Linked DNA regions of Homo sapiens: region 2 is linked to region 1. The links come from fine-mapping of genetic effects on gene expression. A gene starts in region 1. The other region holds a variant in brackets. All regions are shown on one strand. Distances are between the middles of the regions.

Region 1 (4,402 bases):
TTCCAGATATCTGAACTTTCAAGGTTCACTTTAGATGTTTCTTCTTCTATGTTGCCCCTTGACAATTCCACCCTACCCTGGGGATAATTAGGGACTCCCTCCTGTCTGCCCCAGAACACTCTGTATTGCAGTACTCATAATATTATAGAGTTTATACATCCGCCCTACTGCCTCCCCAACTAGGCTGAGGACTCCTTGAGGGTGATAATAGCCCTTTTCTTGTATGACTTGTTTTATCAGGATACGTGGTGTATAACTGGAACTCAAGAAATAACATGAACTGTGTTAGGTGGACATTCTGCCCTATGTTCTGATTCCTGGGTTATACACAAGCCAGCAGTGTCCTACACCACCTAACAAAGAATTAGAAACCTTGATAAAAAGACTGGTAAACACAGACTTACACCCACAGAACCTATTTAGTTAACAACCTTTTGCCATAAAGTCTCTTGAGAAGTTACCCTTTTCCAAACAACTTCTTCTAAAATACATATATATATATATATACACACACACACACACACACACAGATAGATAGATAGATAGATACTCTAAAACATATAAAGTAAATAAGCATGATATTTTGACACTGCAGCTTTTGGGAAAATATGCTATTTTTATTCTAACAGTTCTTAGTCATCAGTTCTTAATCATTGAATATCAGAACAAATTTGAACTGAGTGCCGTGTTTGGATAAACTGAAAGTATTTCATTTTGTCTAAGTATGACTAGAGAGAGGGATGATGAGGTAACATCTTTTGTAATTTTTCTGTCTCTGTGTACTAAATAAATTTTCACATCTTTCCAAGTGCTCTCATCTTCAGCTATTATTTTGACTGAAATTGTCTTCTCTGCTATAACTTTAAATGTTAAGTGTGCTGTAAGTGCAAGTTAACCATGATCCTCCAAATGGTTGAAAACATTCATAAACAAAATTGTTCAGAGAGCAAAATATACCTTACAAAGAACAACTGCCTTTAACACTCCCCCACCAACCAGCACTCACCATCACATAAACCTTCATGTTATTACATTTTATGAACAAACTCTATTTTATTTTCAATTTGATGTTCATTACTTATATAATGTCATGACAATTGAAAAATATTTCTATTGTTCAGTTAAAATATTTTCCTATCTATAAAAATGCTTTGGGTATGTTGGGTTGGGATAAAATGCTTCCTAAATTTTTAAATTCAAATTCATAAAAACGCTTTTTCACATAATGGCATTTTACTTTGTGGGAGGATTTTTAGGAACAAATTAAGATTACCAAGTGAAGAACAAGTCAATTATGAAAGTGTCACTGACAAACTCTGGAATTACTGATGTGCAGAGAAGGAAAGGGAGAAGCAGGCAGATGGACTCATTAGGAGGCTTCTTCCATTATCCGGAGGAGAGACAATGATGGTTTGGATGAAGGTGGTAGCAGTGGCAGTGGTGAGTAGTGGTCAGATTCTGGATACAGTTTGAATATAGCACCACCAAGTTTTGCTGTTGGGCTAGATATGGACACACACCAGTGTGTGAGAAAAATAGGAGTCAAAAATAACTTCAAATCCAGAGATATCTAAAGCTTACCTCATACCATATGAAAGGTAAATTTGAGTTAGAACTAGGATCACAGAGTTTTTTGACATCCATCCTGGAGTTCTATCCACTCTATTTTGCTGCTTCAAAGGAGATCATCTGACATTTGAAGTCTCAATAGCCACTTTGTGACAGGAGAGCTGGAAACTTTTTTAGTTACTGCAAAAAGAAGGTCTTTATTGGGATTTTTTATTTGGAGAACTTAAAATATCTATTCTGGAACATTGAGGACCTGCAGCTGCTTTGAGGATTTACTCTAAAGCATTCTAAATCTTTAACCGGTTATTACTGAGGTCAGAGGGAGAAAGAACATTATTTTGATGTCCTTGCAGATTTTCTGGTTGACTCAAAATAACTCCACATGGCATGATGGAAAGAACATTCAACTAGGAAGCAAACTGGCTTTTGGTTTTCGGTAATACCACCAATTGGATAAGTCATAAACTCTCTAAGATTCAAATTCCTCATCTCTAAAGTAAGGAGAGTGGATAAGTAGGATTTTTCAACCCTCAGTTGATATAAACCTTGTAGAACATTCCAAGCCATCCCTGACAGCTGCCTTCTTCAGTTTCTGGGCTTAAAGAAGTATCTCAGTCACCTTGTCTTCCTGGTAAACTCAAGGTTCTGAAGACATAAGAGGAAATTCCTGTTGTTCATAAAAAACAAAGAAACCTTTAAAATCAATGGTCCTCCAAGTTCTTCTGGCTCTCAAACTTCGATTTGATATTGCTAAATCACTGCTTTTATGTATTAAAACACTTTCTGAAGTAGAAGAGGTATGGATTATAATTTTTTTTAAACATTTTAGAATAGGAAAACTAGTATTTTTGAGCTTATGCTATGCATCAGGCAATAGAATAGATATGTTAATAATGTCATTATATCCTTACAATAAGTAGGTTTTATTGTCTCGTTTTTTACAGTATGGACATCAAGGCTTAAAGAGGTTAAGTCATTTGTCTAAGACCATACAATGGTGGGGCCGGAGTTCAAACACAAGCTTTTTTGGCTCCAAAGCCTTCGGTATGACATCAACCTGTTACCAATAACAATAGCAATTGTCATTGATACATTGTAAGATATTGAAAGAGAAAAGGAGAAGAATTTACAATTTACATGCTTTTATTACTCACAAAGTGCCTTCAGACTACAGGTAGATAGGTGGTAGGACATCTGGACTGTGAGTTAACTCTCAGGAGACAAGCAATTGCATTTACTATCCTGTTCTTTCCTCCAAGGCTCCTCCACCAGCAGTTGTTAAAGCCATACTCACCCTTCACCAAGGCACGGCAATGATTCCTTCCTAAAAGCCCCGATGTGTGACATTTTCCAGTATGAAACAACTGATTGAGTTGGAACAGATTAATTTCATTAGTTTATAAAACTAAAAGAAAAAATGTAATTGTTTTGCTTTAAAAGGTGTAGGCAAAATTAAAAAATAAAAAGAGAAGAGAAAAAAAAAAACAACAAAAAGGTGCAGGCAAATTTTATTCTTTTCCCCCACTACTCTTCCTTTCTTTCCTTTCTTTCTTTCTTTCTTTCCTTCCTTCCTTCTCTTTCTTTCTTTCTTCCTTTCTTTCTTTTTCTTTTCTTCTTTCTCTTTTTTTTGGCCAACAATTTATAATTATTTAGTTGTTAATAGATGGTAAAGAGACTTTTCCGAAACTTGAATAATACTGACATGAAAAAGACTACAGTCAGCTAAAACTCCAATAAGACATAAAAAAATTTAAAACCAGAAAATTTAAATTTTCGGTTTTCAGAGGGGAAAAAAGGCAAAACAAGGTTAAAAAATGAAGCCAATGGGCAGTAAAGAGAGGGAAACTTATAATGAAAATAAACCTAGGGTTGTTTATTTTGGCAGGAGTATTTGGGTCATTTTGAAATGCAACTATGACAAAGAATTTTTCCATATTTTAGGAATAAAGAAACAAAATGCTAAAAGCTATTGCTAACATGAAAAATGGCACAACGCCTCATGAACTTTTGTCTAATAGTTGATTAATATTGCAAGTCACATTAATTTTATTATTTGCTACATAGTGACGGCTATGTTGTCTGTACAGAGACCCAGACCAGAGGCCTAGGAATATTGTACTTGAAAATAAGAATATCTTGATTAGAAAATATTTGAGATGTAACTTAGTCACTGTCTTGGGCTTAAAAGAACTTTTATATCACAAATAATAATTATTTTGTATATCGAGTAGGGGTAAAAAGAATAACTGAATGGTGGCAGCAGGCTTTGAGGTAAGATTAGATTAGGGAGATAAGGGAAGCCCAGAAACATGTTCCTTAGGACAAGGATGAAAATCTCCCTCCTTTGAGGCCACATGCTACATAACTATCTGGGATGGTTTAGGGGACAGAATCAAAGACCCTAGCAGGACTTTCCATTGTGGAGCTATAGCCAACTGTTTAGAGGACTCAGTCATATTTGCCATTCTTCTTTAATTCTCCATTGTTTCGTGCTATTATTATTTCAGTGTTTTTCCTGCCTTGGATTTTTGTCTCATGTACTTACTTCTGGTCTTTCTTTGGCATTCACTGTTTTTCTTTTGTTCCCATCTTGTGTTAACTCTAGGTGGGGAGATGGAGGAGGACGAAGGGAGACAGAAACTACAGCCTGACATCAAGAAGTTTCTCCCTTGCTAAGTACAAAATCGGGAAGAGAAATGCTTAGACACGTTTCCCACAAGGTGGGACATTTCCAACTCACCAAAGCAGAAGCTAGATGTCGAATAAAGTATAATTTATTACTTATTAGGAAATAAGGTTAAAACTAGAATCAAAGACTCTAGCAGGACTTTCA
Region 2 (4,402 bases), 26 kb before region 1:
TCTACCATGTGAGGACACAGTAACAAGGCAACCATCTGCAAACTAGGAAGAGGGTTCTTACCAGAACCAGACCATGCTGGGACTTGATCTCAGACATCTCAGTCTCCAGAACTATGAAGAACAAATTTATATTGTTTAATCCATCAGGTGTATGGTATTTTTGTTATAGTAGCTGAGATGGTTTGGCTGTGTCCCCACCCAAATCTAATCTTGAATTGTAGCTCCCATAATCCCCACATGTTGTGGGAGGGACCCAGTGAGAGGTAATTTAATCATGGGGTGGGGGTTACCCTCATGCTATTCTCATGATACTGAGTGAGTTCTCACAAGATCTGATGGTTTTATAAGGTTCTTTTCCCCCTTCTTGCTTGGCACTTCTTCCTGCTGCCACCATGTGAAGAAGGACATGTTTGCTTTGCCTTCCGCCATGATTGTAAGTTACCTGAGGCCTCCCCAGGCACGCTGAACTGTGAGTCAATTAAACCTCTTTACTTTATAAATTACCCAGTCTTGGGTGTGTCTTTTTTAGCAGCGTGAGAACAAACTAATACAGTAAATTGGTACCAGAAGTGAGGTTCTGCTATTAAGATACCCAAAAATGTGGAACTTTCTTTGGAACTGGGTGACAGGAAGAGGCTGGAGCAGTGTAGAGGGCTCAGAAGAAGTCAGGAAGATGTAGAAAAGTTTGGAGCTTCCTAGAGACCTATTGAATGGTTTTTGACCAAAATGCTGATAGTGATATGGACAATAAAGTTCAGACTGAGGTAGTCTCAGATGGAGATGAGGAAGTTATCAGGAATGGAAGCAAAGGTGATTCTTGCTATGCTTTAGCAAAGAGACTGGCAGCATTTTGCCTCTGCCCTACAGATCTGTGGAACTTTGAACTTGAGAGAGATGATTTAGGGTATTTGGAGGAAAAAAAATTTAAGCAGCAAAGTGTTGAAGATGTCAGTTGGATGCTCTTAAAAGGATTGTTTTATTCATTCACAAATATATGGCTTAGAATTGGAAAAAAAAGGGAAGCAGAGGATAAAAGTTCATAAAATTTGCAGCCTGACAATGCAATAGAAAAGTCCATTTTCTAAGGAGAAATTCAAGCCAGCTGCAGAAATTTGCATAAGTAACAAGGAGCCAAATGTTAATCATTAAGACAATGAGGAAAATGTCTCCAGGGCATGTCAGAGATCTTCATGGCAGCCCCTCCCATGACAGGCCCAGAGGCCTAGAAGAAAAAATGCTTTTTGGGCCTTGCTGCTTTGTTCACTCTGAGAACTTGGTGCCCTACATCCCAGCTGTGGCTAAAAGGTGCCAATGTACAGCCCAGGCTGTTGTTTCAGAGGGTGCAGGTGCAGGCCACAAACCTTGGTGGCTTTCATGTGGTGTTGAGCCTGTGGGAGCACAGAAATCAAAAATTGAGGTTTGGAGACCTTTACCTAGATTTCAAACGATGTTTGGAAATCCCTGCGTGTCCAGGCAGAAGTTTGCTGCAGGGGTGGGGCCCTCTTGGAGAACCTCTGCTAGGGCAGTGTGAAAGGGAAGTGTGGGGTGGGAGCCCACACACAGAGTCCTCACTGGGGCACTGCCTAGTGGAGCTGTGAGAAGAGGGCCACCATCCTCCAGACCTTGGAATGGTAGATCCACTGAGAGCTTGCACTGTGCACCTGGAAAAGCTGCAGACACTCAATGCCAGCCCATGAAAGCAGCCAGAAGAGGGGCTGTACACTGCAAAGCCACAGGGGTGGAGCTGCCCAAAACCATGGGAACCCACCTGTTGTATCAGCGTGACCTGGATGTGAG[A/G]CATAGAGTCAAAGGAGATCATTTTGGAGCATTAAGATTTGACTGCCCCACTGGATTTTGGACTTGCATGGGGCCTGTAGTCCCTTCATTTTGGCCAATTTCTCCAATTTGGAATGGGTGTATTTACCCAATGCTGTACTCCATTGTATCTAGGAAGTAACTAACTTGCTTTTGATTTTACAGGCTCCTAGGCAGAAGGGACTTGCTTTGTCTCAGATGAGATTTTGGATGGTGGACTTTTGAGTTAATGCTGAAATGAGTTAAGATTTCAGGGGACTGTTGGGAAGGCATGATGCATTTTGAAATGTGAGGACATGATATTTGGGAAGGTCCAGGGACAGAATGATATGGTTTGGCTGTGGTATCCACCCAAATCTCATCTTGAATTGTAGTTCCCATAATCCCCACATGTAGTGAGAGAGACCTGGTGGGAGGTAATTTTATCATGGGGGCAGTTACACTCATGATGTTCGAATGATAGTGAAGTGAGTTCTCAAGAGATCTGATGGTTGTATAAGGTTCTTTTCCCCCTCTTGCTTGGCACTTCTCCTTGCTGCCATCATGTGAAGAGGGACATGTTTACTTCCCCTTCCACTATGATTGTAAGTTACCTGAGGCCCCCCCAGCTATGTTGATCTGTGAGTCAATTAAACCTCTTTCATTTATAAATTACTCAGTCTTGTGTATGTCTTTATTAGCAGCATGAAAACAGACTAATACAGGAGCCCAAAGTGACTAAGAACAGAGGTTGAAACCTATAGGGTAGGACTTAAGGCAGGGATTGAAAGCCAGATACTGAAGGCAGGCTACAACGTAATCCTATCACACAGATACACTATGCTAGGAAATAAATTAACTGGAGTCAGAAAGATAAATATAAACACTCTAATATTAAATAAACTCTTTAAGCTTCAGTTTCTTTATCTGCTCAAGGGAAATAATAGTACCTATTTCCCTGCATTTTGTGAGGATTAAATGAGATAATACAGGTAAAGTACTTGGAACAGTGCCAATGTATATATAGTAAGCATTATAAAAAGTAATCGTTATAATAATAATTATTAATATTACTGTCTAAGTTCCTGCTTTTAAGGAACCAAGAAGTAGGAGTCATGGAGGTATAACAACTCATAGTGTTTCTTGAATGACAGTGGTGTCACATAAATTAAGATATAAAAAGCAGAATTGTATCAATTCCAAAAAAGTATATTTCTCTAAAATTTAATATGTACACTAAAGATCTGTCTCCATGAAACTAGTTTAAAAATAGCCAATAAAAACCTAAAGTGTTTCTCTATTATTTAAATTCAAAACCTCCTCATAGAGCAAGAGAAGTATGGCTGTGTCCAGTCACTGTGGGGACAATGGGTCTTCATGACAGTCCTTTAAGGATCTTTTCCACAGTACCTTTTTGTGACTGGAAAAACATCACTTGATGACATTTTCTCAATCAAATCAGCTGCCAAACTGGATAAAATCAGCTTCTTACAGAAACCCAGATGCTGCCTCTAACCTAAACTGTGCTCAGTGAGGACATCCCCCGCGCTCTGCAATCAAAGAAATAGCAGTTGATATCTTAATTGCTGCTATCTGGCGGAAAAAGCATACACCTGTTGACAGATTGGCTCAAAACAATTTTAAAAGGAAATTTCAAAAGTAAGACAAGATTATTTTCAGGTCAGCACCACTTTAAACGGGCTACTGAAAGGAAAGCCCAGTGCCCTGATTTGATAGGATGCATTTTGACTGAGCACAGGTGCAAGCCCCTATTGCTCCTGACTGACGTGCGGTCATCACCTACTCAAATGATATCAGAACAGGAAATCCTGCAGAGACCTGCCAGAAATCATCTCACTGGGACAATAGTTCCAGCTTTTTAATAATGCCTGGATAATGTATTTATAAAAGATGATGGAGATTTTCAACCTTGGCAAATGATGCATGTTTATAAATCCATTCTTAAGTAGACACGTATTGTAAACAGGCAGGTCAGCTTAAGAGGGATATCCTGTAACATGTCTTTAATAAATATACAATTAAAGAATAAGCCTTGATGGCTTTTCTAGATAAAATTTTGTTGTAACCACCTTTAAATTCTATAGCTCAGGTTTGCATGTTGCAGCTTCTTCTGACCTCAGGAGAATTACAGTATTCTTTGATTCCAACCCCAAGCATTTATCTCATTCTGCTTTTTCTTGCTTTTCCCAAAGTCTAATTTGGCCAGCTCTATCTACATGTGTTCAGCTTTGCAATGATTTATTTCATATGTTCCTTCTGCTTATTTCAATTTGGCATTTGCTCCTATCATTCCCATATGTCAACAGGTTACTTTGAATTCAGCTGTCTTGCATAGGCCCGCCAAGATAACCATGATTTTCATACTGGCAAAAATGGTTATAGAAAAATAAACTCAGTATTTGAATAAGCTAGTTATTTTTTTAAAGGTCATTTCTAATGAACTCTTAATTCCTGCACAAATTACTCGTGAGAAACTTCTCTTGTCCTGTAGGCCCTAATGCTATCAGCTTCTTCTGTTTCTCAGACAAATTTTCTGTTTTCTTTTTGTTCAACCCCAACTCTCTTCTGAAGAGTGATAATACTTTTG

What was found. PIP is the estimated chance that this variant, and not a neighbour inherited with it, causes the effect.
Region 2: its variant is the best candidate, but not a certain one, in a credible set for the expression of LINC02461 in lung (GTEx, PIP 0.68).

Annotation. Positions count from the first base shown.
Region 1 is chr12:43,153,045-43,157,446 of GRCh38, reverse strand. LINC02461 (long intergenic non-protein coding RNA 2461) reads right to left here and starts at 2,132. Exons shown (of 4, transcript NR_146866.1): 1 at 1,582-2,132.
Region 2 is chr12:43,179,365-43,183,766 of GRCh38, reverse strand. No RefSeq gene overlaps it. Among named protein-coding and RNA genes, the nearest start is that of LINC02461, 26 kb to the right of the region's middle. The variant A/G (reference allele first, on the strand shown) is at 1,798.